Linked DNA regions of Homo sapiens: all the other regions are linked to region 2. Evidence: fine-mapped expression QTL. A gene starts in region 2. Each other region holds a variant in brackets. All regions are shown on one strand. Distances are from middle to middle. Region 1 holds the start of MCM2 (minichromosome maintenance complex component 2). Region 2 holds the start of ABTB1 (ankyrin repeat and BTB domain containing 1). Region 3 holds the start of TPRA1 (transmembrane protein adipocyte associated 1). Region 4 overlaps PODXL2 (podocalyxin like 2).

Region 1 (4,740 bases), 75 kb before region 2:
AATACCTTGCCTGCAGCCTTGAAAGACCTTGAAGAAGAGGCACCCAGTGGCATCGTGTCCAGATCCCTGATCCACAGACACCGAGACAGTGGGTGCTAATTGCTTCAAGGTGCTAAATCCCAGGATAATTTTTTTTTTTTTGAGATAGAGTTTCGCTCTTTTTGCCCAGGCTGGAGTGCAATGGCACAATTTCGGCTCACCGCAACCTCCACCTCCAGTGTTCAAGTGATTCTCCTGCCTCAGCCTCCTGAGTAGTTGGGATTACAGGCATGCGCCACTACGCCTGGCTAATTTTGGATTTTTAATAGAGACAGGGTTTCTCCATGTTGGTCAGGCTGGTCTTGAACTCCTGACCTCAGGTGATCCACCTGCCTCAGCCTCCCAAAGTGCTGGGATTACAGGTGTGAGCCACCATGCCTGGCCATCCCAGGATAATTTTTTATGCAGCAATAGATAACACAAGCCCATGCAGAGTCTCTTCAGCTTTCCTGTCAGCAGCTCCTAGCATCCGAGGTGCATCCTTCACATCCTTTGTTGGTGTCTCTTAACTGTTGGGGTTTCCCAGGTCCCAGGCTTAGACCTTCTCATCTCCCTGCACTCACTCTGGATTATACAACCACTCCCAAGGCAATCTACAGCTTCAGTCCAAACACGCCCTTGAGTCCCATACATGGATATCCAACAGCTTCCTGGATATGTCCCCTCGGCCCAAATTCAGCACAGCCAGAAACAAACTCATCTTCTTCCCCCTTAAATTGCTGGTCTTCCTGTGCGCTCCTATCTCAGCTATCATCCACCTAGCTAAGCCAGGATCCTGGTGTCATCCTGCATGCCTCTTTTGCTGTCCTCAATCACCAACACCTATAGACCCCACTTCCTGGCCGGGCGTGGTGGCTCACGCCTGTAATCCTAGCACTATGGGAGGCCAAGGCAGGCGGATCCACTTGTCAGGAGTTGGAGACCAGCCTAGCTAACAATGGTGAAATCCCATCTCTACTAAAAATACAAAAATTAACCGGGCACAATGGCGTGCATCTCTAATCCCAGCTACTCGGGAGGCTAAGGCACGAGAATCGCTTGAACTTGGGAGGTGGAGGTTGCAGTGAGCTGAGGTTGCACCACTGCACTCCAGCCTGGGTGACAGAGTGACTCTGTCTCAAAAAAAAAAAAAAGATTCCACCTCCTAAACATCTTGTATTTCCAGTTCTCTCCATCACTCCTGCCTCCCTACCCTGGGTCCCAGGCAGAGATGCTTGTTCACTGCACAAAGTGCCTGGCTAAGAGGGTTGCGATTCAGCCCTGCCTCTGCTCACTAAGGCTGCCTGGAACTAGACAAGAACCACAGCAACCTCCTCGTTTGCTGCCTTCAACCTCGTTCAATCCACTTCCACCTGGTAGCAGCCAGAGGGATTCTAAAACCCACACTAGTTCACGTCTCACCCTGCTCAAAATGCTTCCATGGCCTTCCATTGCTTTCAGAATACAGAATAGTCAAACTCTCTAGAAAAACATCTAGCTCTTTTTTGATCCGGATTTTCTCTCCCTCAAGTCTTGTCTGTTGCCCGGCATCATAAGCTCCTAGGGTTAGTTCTTAGGGAGGGGCTTGCACATCCGGGCCCTGCCATGACCTCTGCAGCTTTGCACATGGCATCCTTCTATCTGTAACATCCTCCCTGCGTCTTCGCTCCCCTGGGCAAAGATAACTCCTACTAAAGCCTCAGATGTGACCTCCTACAAAATCCCAGAGTTGTCCAGCTGCTTGAAGTATTGAGCCTTTGAGCTTTGGGAGAAGTTAAACCATTGTGCTCCTAAGACGGTAAGAAGCGTCAGAAAACCAGGCTCTGAACCTCTGCTGTCTTTTTTTTTTTTTGAGACGGAGTCTCACTCTGTCACCCAGGCTGGAGTGCAGTGGCGGGATCTCGGCTCACCGCAACCTCCACCTCCCAGGTTCAAGCGATTCTTCTGCCTCAGCCTCCCGAGTAGCTGGGATTACAGGCCCGTGCCACCATGCCCAACTAATTTTTGTATTTTTAGTAAAGACTGGGTTTCACCATGTTAGTCAGGCTGGTCTCGAACTCCTGAGCTTGTGATCCGCCCACCTCGGCTTCCCAAAGTGCTGGGATTACAGGCGTGAGCCACCGCGCCCGGCCTCTGTTGTCTTGTCAGCAAAATGGCCCTGGTGTGACCGAGGTCACGCAGCCAGCAAGTGTCGTCGGGTCCCCTGGAGCCTCAGCTTCTACCTCCGCTCCAGCTCCCACCACAGCGCAGGCGAGCGCACGCGCACAGCGCCGGGCCGCACACCTCCGGGCTCTGGGCGGAGCGCCTCGGGCGTTGTAGGCGGGACCGGACCCTCTGGCCCGCCCCTCCGTGTCCCTTCTGGTCGCCAGTGGACGCCGACGTCATGACGTCGCGTTCCGTAGGGCTCTTCCCGGGCTTTGGTGGGTCA[C/T]GTGAACCACTTTTCGCGCGAAACCTGGTTGTTGCTGTAGTGGCGGAGAGGATCGTGGTACTGCTATGGCGGTGAGCGCGCTGGCGCGTGGCGGGCGGGCGCCGGGGACATGGGTGCGGAGGCTGCGCGCTTCCCGTACTCTGGCCCCGGCCCAGGGCGGCGCTCTGGGTGAGGCTGGGCCCCAGGCTCTGGGGCGCAGCTACTTTCTCGCCTGCACCCTGCGTGAGGCGACTCGCCTACCTACCACTGACCTGGGGCCCTGGGCTCCCTAAGGCGAGCTCGGCCCGTTCAGCCTCTGTCCTTTATTCACCCCACACATACTTATTGGGCGCCATCTGTGTGGCGCTGAGCGTACAAAAGACAGGCCCCCATTTCACTACACTCCTTTAAACTTTTTTTTTTTTTAATTTCCCAATGATCCTTGTTCCAAACACTACACTTACTTTTGTATTACCTTCTTGTCCCTTTGTCTTGTATACTGTCTGTTCCACATCTGAGTTCCAGACCTCTTGTTTTGGTGGCTCTTCTATGCCATCTCTATCACAATACCTTGCGCACTGTGTGTGCTGAAATAGGTCTAATGCTTAAGGGGAGATAATAGACAGTAAACAGGTAAATAGGCAAATGACATAACCTCAGTGGTTTTTCATGGAGAAAGCACGGTGATGTGGGTGACCCCGATATTTGAGCTGGCTTCTATTTGTTTGGAAGCCACTGACTCAGATTGCTCAGCTGAGAGCATTCCAGGTGAGAGAACAGCAAGGGCAAAGATCTGGAGGCTGGAAGGGGTTTGGTGTGTTGGAGGACAAGAGTCACAGGTGGAGAGAAAGAAGGGAAGGCCCCTGATGGTAAAAAGGAAGCTGTATCATGCCTCACCAGCTTCCTAGGTTTCTGACAACCGCACCTTCTCTTGCAGGAATCATCGGAATCCTTCACCATGGCATCCAGCCCGGCCCAGCGTCGGCGAGGCAATGATCCTCTCACCTCCAGCCCTGGCCGAAGCTCCCGGCGTACTGATGCCCTCACCTCCAGCCCTGGCCGTGACCTTCCACCATTTGAGGATGAGTCCGAGGGGCTCCTAGGCACAGAGGGGCCCCTGGAGGAAGAAGAGGATGGAGAGGAGCTCATTGGAGATGGCATGGAAAGGTAATTTCATTCAAGGCCCTGGACTCAGCAGATAGTTTTGCAGAGAGCCCATTGTGTGCCTGGTGGCCTGGCTTTGGGAGCTGGGAGCAGATGAATCGATGGCATTCTTGCCTTTGAGCACAGCTTGATCCAGGGTTCTGAGGAGACAGGTTTACAGAGCCATGACACAGGTCTCTTTAACTTACTGCATGTAACTTGGAAAGACTAGACCCTAAGCTGAGGATAAGCCCCGACTCCATAAGCACCCCAGAGAATGTAGGGGTCTCTAATCTGGAATACTCCAACTCAAAAAGACAGGAAGCAGGAAGCCCAGTGTTTCCCAGTAACTTTTCAAAGGAAAGGTGCATGGGGGAGGAGGGATCTGATAAATAAAGTTTTAGAGTCAATCAGCAAACATTTATTGTACCTAATGTGCACCATGCCCTTTGTTAGGAATGGTCTTGTTTATTAGTAAACATGTGGTGGCTCACACCTGTAATCCCAGCACTTTGGGAGGCCGAGGTGGGCGGATCACCTGAGGTCAGGAGTTTGAAACCAGCCTGGTCAACAGGGTGAAACCCCGTCTCTGCTAAAAATACAAAAAATTAGCTGTGCATGGTGGTGCGTGCTTGTAGTCCCAGCTACTTGGGAGGCTAAGGCAGGAGAATCACTTCAACCCAGGAGGCATAGGTTGCAGTGAGCTGAGATCACACCACTGCACTCCAGCCTGGGCGAAAAGAGTGAAACTCTGTTTCAAAAATAAATAAATAAATAAGTTAGCAAGACTTAATGCTAGGAGAGTGGAGTAAGCTCTGCGCATAAGCAAGGCTAGATTTCTACCCCTGCCTTACTCTGCATTTCCAGCTGCGATCTGGTAGATAACGTCAGTAGCGGAATTGTGTGAATGCCCAGGAGCCTCGTGGAGATGCTCCTTTTGTGCCTTTTCAGCCTTAGCATGTGTGAGAGTACTGTGCAGGGCATCCTGCCGTCCCTAGGATGTCAGACAGTTGAGAGGCTTTCAAGGGCACTCCAGACTGGATGCATCTTTGCTATTATCAGTACCACCCCCAACGATGAGACTGCATGTGCTGTAGGCTGTAGAAGGAATGAGGAGTCTGGATAAATCTGCCCTGGACTTGGGGTCAGGGCATGGGTCCTAGACGGCTTTC
Region 2 (4,322 bases):
GTATGGTGGAGGATGTGTGGGGGGCTCACATCTCCTGTCTCTCTAACTAGTTAGGATAGGTGTGGGCACTCTCTCTAGTTGGATGGTGTCCAGCAGCATGGGTCCACTCTCACTGGAGGCCTAGGGCCACAGTGAGCTCAGACTCAGCGGCTGGGGCAGAAGCTATGGTGGGATGTGAAGGAGGCTGGGAACATGGGCATGGGGTGGAGAGGCCTCCAGGTGTACTGAGGCAAACGGGATGGGCATGGGGTAGAGGCAAGCCCAGGCGCCAGGGAACTTCAGGAGCCGGGAGTGCCAGCACCTTCTAAGCCTGCTCCCCCATCCCCACCCGAGCCCAATGCAACCACCCCAGAGGAGCCATGGCACCCCAGGACCTCAGCTGAGGAAACTGGCCCCTCCCACCCCTAGATTGGCATCCAGAACTATTCCACAACCAGCAGCTGCCAGGCGCGGGCCAGCCAGGTGCGCAGCGACTACGGCACGCTCTTCGTGGTGCTGGTGGTCATTGGGGCCATCTGCATCATCATCATTGCGCTTGGCCTGCTCTACAACTGCTGGCAGCGCCGGCTGCCCAAGCTCAAGCACGTGGTGAGTGTGGGGACAGGTGGGGCTGGGGGCCAGTTGAGAGGAGAGTGCCCATCGATAGGTGTCCTCATCTGCAAGGGGAGGCAGTGACTCTCCTGGGCGCACAGGGTCCCGTGGGTGAAGCAGCTGGTCAGCCTAGCACTGCTGACTGCTCTGCAGGGCACCAGCCCCAGGACAGGTGCCAGAGGTGCAGGGAGTGAGGGGGCTGCTAGCCCCACCAGGGGGCCCCTCCCTGGCACCACCAGCCCCTTTCCGGCGCAGGCACTGCAGGGCCTGAGCACCTGAATACCTCACCAGAGGCAGGCCCTGCGTTGGTGGTGCCCAAGGATCAAGGAGAGGCTCCAGCAGCCTAGAGGCCTCCCCAGGAGGAAGCGAGCAGAGCCCTAGCGATGCTCCCTGCCCACCTCGCAAGTGGAGTCTTCTTAGGGGGCTGTTGGGGGATCGATGACGTCAGGGAGGCCACGGGGCTTTGTAGTGCCAACGACTAGTAGGTTTATTTTGAGAAAGGAGTTGAGCTGCAGCAACAGAAAAGAAGGATCTGGCACCTGTGGAGGGTGCCGCGGGAACCCCCTGGGTGGGGTTGCACAGACGGCCGCGGGCCTGGCGCTGTCCGGGGGCTGGCTCGCTCGCCCATGGCCTCTCCCCACCCCGCCTCAGTCGCACGGCGAGGAGCTGCGCTTCGTGGAGAACGGCTGCCACGACAACCCCACGCTGGACGTGGCCAGCGACAGCCAGTCGGAGATGCAGGAGAAGCACCCCAGCCTGAACGGCGGCGGGGCCCTCAACGGCCCGGGGAGCTGGGGGGCGCTCATGGGGGGCAAGCGGGACCCCGAGGACTCGGACGTGTTCGAGGAGGACACGCACCTGTGAGCGCAGCCGAGGCGCAGGCCGAGTGGGCCGCCAGGACCAAGCGAGGTGGACCCCGAAACGGACGGCCCGGAGCCCGCACCAGCCCCGCGCCTACCCGGGCCGCCCCCGCGGCCTGGCCCTCGGCGCGGGCTCCTTCCCGCTTCCCCCGACTTCACACGGCGGCTTCGGACCAACTCCCTCACTCCCGCCCGAGGGGCAGGCCTCAAAGCCCGCCTTGGCCCCGCTTTCCCGCCCCTGAACCCCGGCCCCGCGGGCGGCGGGCGGCGCTTCCTGCGCCCCGGGACTCAATTAAACCCGCCCGGAGACCACGCCGGGCCCAGCGCGTCTGCCTTCTTGACTCATTCTTATTTCCGGGGTTGGGGCGGGGCGGGGCGGGCGGGGCACCCCGGGGCAGGGGCGGGGCCGCGGGGCGGGGAGGCCGGGGCGGGCGGGTCCTCCGGACGCCGCTGCAGAGCGGGGCGGGGCGGGGCTGAGCGTGTTTACATCCGCCGGGTGCGCGGCTTCGCCGCCCGAGGTCGTTCGGCTCGGGTACCATCCTCCGCGCCATGGACACCAGCGACCTGTTCGCCAGCTGCAGGAAGGGGGATGTGGGCCGAGTGCGGTGAGGACCTCGCAGTCCCGGGGAGGGTGCGGGAGGTGGCCGCCCTCGGAACGCCTCGGGCCCTGGGACGGGCGGCTGGGCGGCCGCGGAGAGGCGGGCGCCTCTGCCGGGTCACAGCCCTCGGAGCGCCCCCGCGGGGCAGACCACCCGGACCCCCGCCGCAGCCCCCCAGCGGAAGCGCGCTGGGGCGGGGACACTGATGGCCATTGACCCCCGGAGGGCTTCCTGTAAGAAGGGACTGCTCAGCGGAGGCCCGAAGGCGCAGAAGTGGGCGGAGAGAAGGCGGGCCACTGTTCGCCCTGGTAGGGCCCGGACGTCAGACCCCCCGGGCGCAGGGCGCGGGTATAGGCCTGGGACTCCAGACGTGGCCCCTTTCTCTCGTGCTCTCTGGACCTGGCGCGGGGAACACCTAGAGCCCATAATCGGCCTCCGGTCCCTGAGGATTCGGAAACTCCTGACGCAGCTAAAGTGAATCTGGCGCTGAGATGCCCCCTCCATGGGCCGGACGCGGAGGGAAGGGGTGCCCAGTTGGGTTCTGGGGCCCTTCCCCTCCTTGGGCTTCCACTATCCCGTTTGACCTCCTTTTTTCTTGGCCCTTCCTCCCCCTTGACCTGGTGCTGACTGACTGCTTCCACCTCCCCTGGGCTGGCGCCGGGCTGCTGTACTCCCGTAGCCTCCCTGGGCCGCTCCCTGACATCCCGTGCCACTCAAGAGTTAGTGCATAGTGTCAACGCTGAGTGGGTTCACAGCACTTCCAGGTGCAGCCTGGAGGCCTCCTTTGGGCTGCCCCCGCCTCAGTGGGGCTGCATTAGCATTGGCGACTCCCCTCGCTCACCTTCCGCATCCCATCAGTTGCTGTATCCCGCGACTCCTGCCTCCTAGAATTGTGTGCCCTCCACACCATCAGGAGGCCTGCAGCAGCTTTTTCCCGGGCTCCCTGCTTCTAACAGGGCCAGCTTCTTCCTGCAGTAGAGAGCTCTGGTGGGAGTGAAGGCTCCATCACCTCCTCTCCCAAACGCTGAAAGGCCAAAGGTCCAGCCTCGGCACTGGCTCTGGCTTCTGTCCCTGTAGCCCATCGTCCCCCAGCACTGATAGCACACAGTGTCTGCCTGTTCGACCCCACCTCCACATCCTTGCCTGCACTTTGCCTTGAGTGCCTCTCCTGCTCTGGTCTGCCTGTCACCTGCCCTCACCTGGGGGAGGCTTCCCCATACCAAAAGGGATGTTTTCTCTCCGTTCCTTTCCACGGGCCTTCTTTCTCAGACCATGAACCCGTCCTGACCCAGGCTCTGACCTCCTTCCTGCCCAGGTACCTGCTGGAGCAGCGAGACGTGGAGGTGAATGTGCGGGACAAGTGGGACAGCACCCCCTTGTGAGTGCTGGAGAGAGGGGTGGGGAGGGTGGGGGTTGGTGCACCCCTTCAGCACTGAGGACTGCCTCCTGTACTTCCTTCCTCCCTTCAGGTACTATGCCTGCTTGTGTGGGCACGAGGAGCTGGTACTCTACCTTCTGGCCAATGGTGAGAGCAGGGAGCCCGGCTCACGGGTGTGCGTGGGTGCATGCATGTGTGCGTGTGGGTGCATGCATGCGTGCGTGCATTCAAAGGCCTTGATACACATTTGCAAAGCACCACGATTCCTCTCTTACCACCCAGTCGAATCAGCAAGTACTATTATTGCTACTTTAAAACCTTTTCTCTGTCCACCTTGCCCATCTCTACTTCTACGACCTGGGCCCAGTCATCAGCATTTCTCCCCGGACACGGTGCCTGCCTCTCTCTTGCCATTGCAGCCAAGTTGATCTTTTCACAATGAATCTGATCGGCTAAAAATCCTCCAGCAAGTTCCCATTGCCTCTAGGATACAGTGAGCCTGCCTGGCCATGCCCAAGGCTCCACAGGGTCTGCCCTCCCACTGGCCTCATTCCTTCGGCTCTCCCTGCTTGCTTGCTGCTTGCTTGCTGCTACACTGGCCTCGCTGGGGCTCCACTGTGCTATGCATGCCCCTGTTCCTGCCCCAGGGCCTTTGCACCTGCAGTTCCTCCTGCATGGACTGCCGTTCTGCAAACGTTCACATGGCCCACTCCCCCTTCATTCAGGTCTCTGCATGCTGCCACCATTACAGAGTGACCTTTCATGACTTCCCTTCATTCAGTGCCATTCTTCTTCCTATTTTGGTTTTTTCTTTTTTTTTTTTTTTTTTTTGGAGACAGAGTCTTGCTCTGTCACCCAGGCTGGAGTGTAGTAGTGTGATCTCGGTTCACTGCA
Region 3 (4,740 bases), 84 kb before region 2:
CAAAAGTCTCAGGGCAGATTCTCATTGACAATTGAGGAAACACTCTCTGCTGAGCTCAGTAAGTCAGGGCTGTACCACCTTGACCTCACGCTCAGGTACCCGCCTCAGAGTAAAGCCGACGCGGAGGAGTGGAGAGCTGAGACACGGATGGAGACAGATCTTGATGAGCTCACTGGAGCCCCTGGATTCAGCCACATCCAAAGCCAGTCCTACCCGCTTGGACTTTTCAGTTATAAAACCCAACAAATCCCCTTTTCTGCCTAGGCCAGTTTGAGTCTGACTTCTCTAATTCACCAGTGAAAAACCTCCAGCTAACACAGATTTTGGAGTCAACAAGACGGGGCTGCACTGCTGGTTCTGCCACGTGCTTGCTGTGTGACCTGGGGTGAGTCACTCCCCCTCCAAGTATCATGGGGACAACATCTGCCTAATAAGGGTGCCGTAAGGATCAAACAAAACCAGGGATGTAAACATCTACAAAAGTGACACATGTACAAAGGTGGTTGCTGCTTTTCTTTTTTTTTTTTTTTTTTTGAGACAGAGTCTTGCTCTGTCGTCCAGGCTGGAGTGCAGTGGCGCGATGTCGGCTCACTGCAACCTCCACCTCCCGGGTTCAAGCAATTCTCCCACCTCAGCCTCCCAAGTTGCTGGGATTACCAGAGAAGAGACTGAAGGGCAAGGAGGGAAAGGAATTGGTTCCCAGGTCCATGGACCTCTTGTGAAGCCCCCATTGCTGTGGGGTCTGAGGAAACACAGAGGAGGTGTCAGCTGCTCTGCCTGCCCCCACTCCCCTGCCAACAACGTAGTAACCTCTGTGCCTAACCTCTGAGCCCTGGCCTCCAACCCTGGGAGGGAGGTACTTATGTTATCCGCATTGTGCACGTGGAGCTCAGAGGGGCAGCCACTTGCCAGGCCAGCAATCCAGGCTGTCTGTCTCCAGAGCCCAGGCCCCCAGTCAACAACTTGCCAGGTGCCCCTCTCCAGGCCTCGGCTTCTCCACCTGTGGGTCAAGAGCACCAGGCTTGTTCTAGAGCTATCTTCTCAGACCTGATGTGGGAAATACCCTGGTGTTGTTAACATGCAGATGCTGCTCCCAAGGGCAGGGGTAGGGCTGAACAGTCTGTGTTTCCCACAGGCTCCCAGGTGGTGCCCCTGCTGCTGCTACTTGATCCAGCAACCACACTGGGGTTATGGGGCTGCTGGCCATACCAGGATTGCCATTACGTATCAAAGCTTAGGAAATAACTGAAGCACTGACTTTTTTTTTTTTTTTTTTTTGAGACAGAGTCTCGCTTTGTCACCTAGGCTGGAGTGCAATGGTGCGATCTTGGGTCACTGCAACCTCCGCCTCCTGGATTCAAGCGATTCTCCCGCCTCAGCCTCCTGAGTAGCTGGGATTACAGGTGTGCACCACCACACCCGGCTAATTTTTGTATTTTTAGTAGAAATGGGGTTTCACCATGTTGGCCAAGCTGGTCTCAAACTCCTGACCTCAGATGATCCACCCACTTCAGCCTCCCAAAGTGCTACGATTACAGGCATGAGCCACTGCGCCTGGCCCGCACTGACTTTTAGTTAATAGGATGCACACTTCCTATGTGCAGACATGGTGCTCAGTGCTTTACACGTGGTGACACACTTAACAATGGCATCGCCTTCTAAGGGAGAGAGGACAATTACTGTCCCCTTATACAGAGGAGAGGAGAGGCAGAGAAGGGGTCAGTCCTCAGCCTTCTCTACTTAGTTCTCTTAGACTGATGCTCCCAAGCACTGACAAAGAAGTGGGAGGGGTTGGTCAGCTCACGATAGGGGCCTAAGGGTGGTGAGAAGGGGTGGTGAGAAGGGGTGGAGCCCAGGGGTGATTCTCAGAGGAGGAATTCCTGCGGTGCAGAGCACCCTGGGCAACCCCAGGCCTCCCAGGAACAGGGAAACTGGGACAGACTGTTTCTTCCACCTGGGAGGAGTCTCCCAGACTCACAACATTCCAGGGGCCTCTGCCTCCCTCCCTCCCACCCAGTTGAGGGACAGGATGCTGGCTAGGCTCAGGTCATGGTCACGCAATGCAGGACCCGCTGAGAACGACTGGGTAAGGCCTTCTCTCTCCTCTCTGGGACTCAGCTTTCCCTGCTCTCTCATCTGTGCAACAGGATTGACCAAACCCCACCCACAGCTACCGGATAGGAAACCCTGGGGAGAGGGGCCCTCAGTGCTTCCCACACCGACGGGTTGTTGAGCTTACAAACCCTAGGGCCTAAGGGTGGTGAGAAGGGGT[G/A]GAGCCCAGGGGTGACAAGGTGGGGAAGGCTCCATAGGGCAGAGGCCAAGTAAGTTACTTTGCTCTCCCCTGTTGTCCTTCGGCCTTGGGGCTGGCAGGCGTGTGGTCCCTGTCCTAAGCCGGAGACCCCAGTAAGATGGGGAGGCCTGGGCCCAATCTGACCTGCACCTTGCCCTCCCTGCTTGCCTTCCACCTGCTGAGCTGGTCCGTTCCTCAGGGCCTTTGGGCTGGCTCTCCCCCAGCTCTCTCCTGACACCTCCTCTGAGAAGCCTTCCCTTCTCAGCTGTCTCCAGCGCCCGAGCCGCGTCTGGGTATTTACTACTCTCTATCCCGGGAGTGCTCAGGACTCGGTCCCCTAGAACAAGGCCTGGCACGACACGAGCCCTCAACAGGTTGTTATGACGGGAACAACTGAATCTCCAGCACCGCCAAGCCCCGCTGGGGACTGGACGACCCTGCGGCCCCTCCTCACTGCAGAGAAGAGGGCAAAGCCAGCCCCCACCTGCATTCCCCGAGTCCAGAGGGAGCGGAGGCTTCGACATGGCCCCCTCACGGGGCAGCAAAGCCCCGAACCGGCGGCAGGCTTGGCTCAGGAGCACCTCGGCCGCTGCGGGCAGCCACCGTGGGGCTGGAGCCCGTGCCGCCACCCCGCGCCGGACCGGGTCGCCGAGGTCCGGATCTCCACCCGCACTGCCTCCAGCCGGGGCCGAGCCCGACGCCGCTACGTGCGGCTCCCTCCCGGGCCTCGCGTGCCCCCGCGCCCCGAGCGACTCCCGACTGCCCGGCACCCCTCCCGTGGGTTCCCACATCCAGGGCCTTCCCTCCCAAACGCCGCCTTGGCCGTCCGAGCTGCGCCCGAGCGGAAATGGGCCGCTCGCGGAGCAAGGAGGGGAACGGCGGCTGGGCTTCCCGCCGGGGCGAGGGACGGGGCTCCCCCTCTAGCTGCGGCAGGAGACGGGGAGAAGGCCCCTCCTTACCTGACAGCCCGGGCCGCGCTCAGGACCGGCCGCCCCGGCCGCCCCGGCCGCCCATCCGCCGCCACTGGGTGTGCGCGGATCCAGCACAGGCCGCGGGACTCCGGCCTCCAGCGCCAGACCAGGCGGCCTGGGCCGGGAAGCGTCGCGCAAGGACCGGGCGCGACCGGCTCCGTGGAATGAGGGCTAGGCAGGAAAGGCGAGGCGGGGTCAGCTCGCCGGGCCGCGGGTCTCGCGGACACCCTGCAGCCCTTCCCGACAGCGGCGACCGGGAAAGCAAGACCGTCTTTTTCGTCCAGCCCAAATTGCGAAAACGGCCACAGTCCCACAAGTCCCAGAGTCCCAGAGTCCCTGTTATCACTCAGGCCCGCCCTCTAACCTCCAGCAGCCTATAGGAATAAGTCATCACTGGGGGAAAAAAAAAAAAAAGTGGGAGAGACCAATCAAATTCCCAAGAGGCGGAGCAGCCCGCTGACCTCTTAAAGAGACAGCACAGAGGAGGTGCAGAGACAAGACGCTGCTTCACGGAAGAGAGAGGCCTGCGTTTCTCACTCGGAAAGCGGGCGGAATCGAAGACTGGAAAGCTGAGGACGCGCCACCTCTCGCCCTACGCGCCTTCCAGCTGGCAGCAGTTGTCAGTGGACCAGCTGGCGGCAGCCGCGCTCCACCTCCCGGCCTGGGCCGCGGCCGGACCGTCGGGGCGGAGCCTCCGGGGACCGCCCCCTCGCGTGCGGGCGCTTCGGGCGCCCTGCAGGGGTGACCTGGGGTCAGCTTGGGGGAAGGCGTGTCGGGGACCCTCCCCGGCGCCACGCGCTCCAGCCGCGCCACGCCGCAGGGCCGCCGCCTCCCAGCGCCCTGCTCCACGCGGCGCCGCCATGCCTCGGGCACTCCTCTTAGCAACCCTGCTAGGCAGTCATTATAGTCACCTTTTACAGGGCCACCTGAGGCTTGGAGAGGTCAAATAACTTGACCAAAGCCGCGCAATGAGGAAGCGACACAGCCAGGACGCCTCTCCCCAACTCTAACTTCCACAGTTCTTCACGCCTGTTCCTCTGGAAAGCCCTCCCTGATTGCGCCTGTCTTATCCCCTGGCATCGATGCTGCATTCACCATACTCAAGCCATGCGGGTCTCTGTTTCTGTCCCTCGGCTGTTCCAAGCTTGTTCCTGCTCCTGGCTCTACACCTGTTCCCCCGCAGAGCTGGCTCCTTGCCACATCATGTCCTCTAGAGGGTTTTGTGGACACCCTCGCTGGAGCGGCTGTCCAGTCTCATTTCCTTCCGAGCATCTTAATTCTCACCTGATTGTTTTCATTTACCTGCCTCCCCGTCCAGTCTCCCCACCCTATTATAGAATTCCAGCGTCATGAGGATGGAGCCAAGAGAGCCAAGCTGCAGGATGTCCCCTGCAGCATCCTGAGGCTGACTCAGAGCCTCGTGCAGATTGTAGGCACTCAGTTATTACAGGCACCCCAAGACTCACACCTTGCGACAGC
Region 4 (4,740 bases), 36 kb before region 2:
GTTGCAGTGAGCTGAGATCACGCCATTGCACTCCAGCCTGGGCAACAAGAGAGAAACTCCATCTCAAAAAAAAAAAAGTTGACTGGGCACAGTGACTCACACCTGTAATCCCGGCACTTTGGGAGGTTGAGGCAGGCAGATCACCTGAGGTCAGGAATTGGAGACTAGCCTGGCCAACATGGTTAAACTCTATCTCTACTAAAAATAAAAAAAAAATTAGCTGGGCGTGGTGGCAGGTGCCTGTAATCCCAGCTACTCGGGAGGCTGAGGCAGGAGAATCGCTTGAACCTGAGAGGCGGAGGTTGCAGTGAGCCAAGAACGCGCCATTGCACTCCAGCCTGGGCGACAAGAGTGAAACTGTCTGAAAAAATAAATAAAAATAAAAAATAAATAAAAAGACCTCTCTGAGCTTTGTCACTCAAAGTGTGGTCCACAGACCAGCAGCATCAGTCACACCTACTGTGTCAGAAGACTCGGGTGACTCACACACATTTCAGTCTGAGAAGCGCTGATTAGAGGGCAGTGTTCGGGACAGATGAGTGCAGGGGGAATTGCTAGGGGTTCGTAAAAGAGCTCTCTTTTTCTTCCAGCGGTGAAGCACTATGAGGACTGTAATTCTAATGGAGGCGTCTCTCATGTCTACACATCTATGTTTCTGTATCGTCTCTGCTGTTTTGCTTTATCGTGAAGTGTGGGGCATTTCGGCCATGTGCCCCCCTGAGTGGCATGGTTGTCTACCCTAGAGAAAGGGAAACTGAACACATGTTCCTGAGATCCCGGTGTTGTTATTTCCTCCAGCCTCCTTTCTCCTTCACAGTGTACTGAGCACAGTTAGTACAGTGCCATGAGCAGTTCTGTTAGTAGCTACCTTTGAGATCTCTCTCCCTGCCCTACTAACCCTGTGGCTCAAACAGAGTTATATGGTCACTGTTACACTATTCCATAATGATTTGTTTTCTTGCTGGTCTCTGTAGTAGAAACTGACCCTTTTGGGGCAGGGACCCTATCTTTCTTATTTCTGTACCAACATAGCCTTGGATCATGCCTAGTCCAAATAAGCATTTAATAAAGGCTTTTTGGTTGAAGAATGAATGAATGGATGGATGAATGAATGGAATTTAACCATTCAAACACTACTCTGATCCAAAAGGAGAACTTGATTTATAATTTGTCTTAATGTATCATTTGGCTATTTCTGTGTAATAAATCACCCCAAAATTTAGTGGTTTCAGATTCTCAGTTCTTAAGATCTGATCCCTGGACAGAAGCATCACCTGGGAACTTGCTAGAAATGCAAATTGTTGGGCCCCGTCACAGACCAGCTGGATTCAGAACTCTAGGGTGGGCTTAACAGTCTCTGTTTTAACAAGCCCTCATGGTGATTCCATGCTGGTTCAAGTTTGAAAGCACTGGATTAAAACGGTAGCCATTTATTTAGCTCATGATTCTGTAGTTTGGCAATTTAGGCTGCAGTCAGCTGGGTGGTTCTGGTCTCAGCTGAACTCCTTCAAGTTTGTCATCAGCTGTTTATCACCTTTGCTGGTCTTGTCTGGCTCTCTCACTTTGGGACTTCAGCTAGGACACTGAGCTGATCTGGCTCTCTTCTGCATGGGCTCCTGTTTTCCTGCAGGCTAGCCTTGAGCAGAATCCTGAGAGAATGGAAGCGTGCAAGGTATCTTGATGCCTAGCCTTGGAAATGGCACATCATCACTTCTGCATTGTCTTGTGTAGCAACTCACAAAGGTAGCTCAGATTCAAGGAGTGGAGAATTAGATTTCATCTCTTGATGGGAGGAGCTACAAAGTCTCATTGCAAAGATGTGTGTTATTAATTGGGAGTCATTGGATAACCCCTCTCAGGAAGAACCTTAAGAAGGTACTGTTTTGGGGTAGGACAGGGCACTCTGTTTCTTTCCCATCTACCTAGTAGGGGATAGATACTGCTTTCTTCTATAATATTCGGGCTAGGAAAAAATCCAAGAGTAGCTTAGGGTCCCCCCGTGATGTGAAGGGGAATTAGAGTGGAAGAGGTCATGGGAAAGTCTTGAGCTAGAGAGAGTACAAGTCCTTAATTCATCCTCTCCCAGGAACAAAGGGGAACTTCAAGGGGAGTGGACCCCAAATTGATTGTCTTGGCTTTCTCTGCCTTTTAAATACCTTTGGCTCAAAGAAACCACAAAATATGAGATGGCTGTTTCTCTCTTTGAGTCAGGGATTCAGACACAGGCTCTGGGAACATGACTTCAGCTTCGTGGAGCCAGGCCCTGCCTGGAAGCAGAATCTTTGTCCGTGGACATGGTGCCTAGGACAGCAGAAGACATTCCGGATGGGGTGTGATAGCTTCCTGGTTTGGACTTGGCAGAAGGCAATCCCCTGTGAGCAGTCCTCAGGAGCACTGGCAACACAGCAGTGCCATTGGCTCCCACCTGCCCAGGGTCACAGCTTGCCCACCCTTTAGGTATTTTTTTATTTTTATTTTTTTGAGACAGAGTCTCACTCTGTCGCCCAGGCTGGAGTGCAATGGCACCATCTTGGTTCACTGCAATCTCTGCCTCCCGGGTTCAAGCAATTCTCCTGCCTTAGCCTACCAAGTAGCTGGAGACTACATGCGTGTGCCACCATGCCCAGCTAGTTTTTGTGTTTTAGGAGAGACTAGTTTTGCCACATTGGCCAGGCCTGTCTCGACCTCTTGACCTCAAGTGATCCGCCCGCCTCGGCCTCCCA[A/C]AGTGCTGGGATTTACAGGTGTGAGCCACCACACCCAGCCCCATCCTCTAGTTATGATGATACTTTCTAAAGCTGAGAGTTGGGCCTGTGAATTATCTTATTGAGAGACAGAGCTTCACGGGATCTTAGAGGTTGGCACAGACGTTTACTAGCCCTGGTCAGATGCTAAGGCTCTGATGCCTCCTTAGCCCCGGCGTTGGCTTTGAGGCCATGTAGAATCACTCTGATATTCTTATTCACATCAACCTTTTGTTTTAATGTATTTGAAGATACCATGGTCTCTTTTAAATATTTTTTTCCCCGGGCCATGAACTTCACAGGTCTCTGTTTTTTATATAGGATAATAACACAATATTTGTAGAATAGTTTGGTTTGTAAAGCTCTTTGTAGAGCAGCTTTCACACATGGCTCACCAATTACCTCATTTGGTGCCCCTCACACTGGAGGCATGGTAGGAATTGGTGTCCTTATTACACAGAGGAGGAGAGCAAGGCTGGTGGTGGTGAAGTCACTCAGCCAGAGAAGCCAGAGTGTAACCTATTTCCTGGTACCAGGCTTTCTCTCCTGTTATATAGAACATCTTCCTGTCTCTGACCTCAGGGCGTCTCTCTTACCCTGGAGTCTCTACTTCCCATCCCCCATCCACACAACCCAGAATACACCCCTGTGGCTGGATGTGGCATTATTGGCTGTGAGTTGTCTGGCTGCTGCACAGTGTGCACAGACTCCCTCATACGGAGACTCACAGGACAGTCTGAAATGCTCATTTTTTTCAGTGGCCAGTCACAGTATTGGCACGTATCAAGCTTAGGGCCTGCTCAGCAAAGCACATGGCACCAATAATATTAGCCCTATTTTTATTATAAGCATCACTAAAAATTGCCATGTACTGTAGTCAAGTCAGGTCACAGTACACATCTGGTGTAGAGCAAGAGGAAGACTGTGAAATTCCCTCTTCCCTAGATCCTTAAGTGTTAGTCTTGGAAAAGAATTCAGAGGTCATTTCATTTAGCTTCCTTGTCTATCTGGTGAGGAGACTGAGACCCAGAGGTCTTGAGCAGCTTTCCAGGAGCCTCACAGCAAGTTAGTAATTTGTGTGGTTAGGTCATTAAGTTAGAGGTTAAGTTGTGAAACTGGCAAATAGGGCTATATTCCTGTCCTTAAAGAATGAGAGTGAAAGAAGAGGAAAAAGGCCTCCTTTAATTTGTTTTCCTGTCCATTTATTTGCTTGTTTTGGTAAATTAGGAGAGAGAGAGAATCCAAGATTCTAAACAAATATGTCAAATTACCAGCACTGGGTTGAGTTTGAACTGTGACCTCACGTGGTTTTTTAAAAGACTACGTTCAGAGGCTGGGCTCAGTGGCGCACGCCTGTAATGCCAGCACTTTGGGAGGCCTAGGAGGGCAGATCACTTGAGGTCACGAGTTCAAAACCAGCCTGACCAACATGGCGAAACCCTGTCTGTACTAAAAATACAAAAATTAGCCAGGCGTGGTGGTGGGCACCTGTAATGCCAGCTACTTGGGGGGCTGAGGCAGGAGAATCACTTGAACCTGGGAGGCGGAGATTGCAGTGAGCCAAGATTGCACCACTGTACTCCAGCCTGGGCGACAGAGCAAGACTCCATCTCAAAAAAAATAAAAAATAAAAAAACTAAAGACTATGTTCAGGATACTGTATTGCTGAAATACAAATGATATTCATAATGCAGTTTTGGAGAAATTTCAGCCAAGGATGGAAGCCTGGGGAACACTGTGTTCGTCCAATCATACTGCTAGGTCCTTAAAAGCATGGGCCCTGTCTTCACTTCAGTTTGTAGCTCCAACACCCAGTACAATTGCCAACAGAGAGAGGGTACTCAGGAGGCATTTTCTGAGTGACCACATGCGCAGTGGAACACTGACTCAGTGATTCCTCTCTCTCCCCTGCCTGTCTCCATCTGTCTCCCCTTGCCCCTGCCATAGGGAAGTCTAAGCAATTTGGCCTTTTTGAAATGAAAATAGTGTCTCAGAATCC

The links. PIP is the estimated chance that this variant, and not a neighbour inherited with it, causes the effect.
Region 1: its variant is fine-mapped to the expression of ABTB1 in whole blood (INTERVAL, PIP above 0.99).
Region 3: its variant is fine-mapped to the expression of ABTB1 in whole blood (INTERVAL, PIP above 0.99).
Region 4: its variant is fine-mapped to the expression of ABTB1 in transverse colon (GTEx, PIP 0.95).

The regions. Positions count from the first base shown.
Region 1 is chr3:127,595,956-127,600,695 of GRCh38, forward strand. MCM2 (minichromosome maintenance complex component 2) reads left to right here and starts at 2,456. Exons shown (of 16, transcript NM_004526.4): 1 at 2,456-2,517; 2 at 3,363-3,592. The coding sequence starts at 2,512. It also overlaps a transcript of TPRA1 not described here. RefSeq lists enhancers at 2,134-3,091, 2,445-2,564 and a silencer at 2,595-2,754. The variant C/T (reference allele first, on the strand shown) is at 2,447.
Region 2 is chr3:127,671,026-127,675,347 of GRCh38, forward strand. ABTB1 (ankyrin repeat and BTB domain containing 1) reads left to right here and starts at 1,927. Exons shown (of 12, transcript NM_172027.3): 1 at 1,927-2,056; 2 at 3,366-3,428; 3 at 3,520-3,575. The coding sequence starts at 2,001. PODXL2 (podocalyxin like 2) reads left to right here. Exons shown (of 8, transcript NM_015720.4): 7 at 409-588; 8 at 1,243-1,777. The coding sequence ends at 1,455. RefSeq lists silencers at 1,209-1,288, 1,299-1,898, 2,039-2,298.
Region 3 is chr3:127,587,161-127,591,900 of GRCh38, forward strand. It overlaps TPRA1 (transmembrane protein adipocyte associated 1), which reads right to left and starts at 3,573. Exons shown (of 11, transcript NM_001136053.4): 1 at 3,250-3,573. MIR7976 (microRNA 7976) reads right to left here and starts at 16; the gene lies at 1-16. RefSeq lists enhancers at 1,838-2,515, 2,516-3,192 and silencers at 2,926-3,395, 3,896-4,225. The variant G/A (reference allele first, on the strand shown) is at 2,273.
Region 4 is chr3:127,634,361-127,639,100 of GRCh38, forward strand. All of the region lies in intron 1 of PODXL2 (podocalyxin like 2), which reads left to right. Among named protein-coding and RNA genes, the nearest start is that of PODXL2, 7.5 kb to the left of the region's middle. RefSeq lists an enhancer at 4,485-4,740. The variant A/C (reference allele first, on the strand shown) is at 2,724.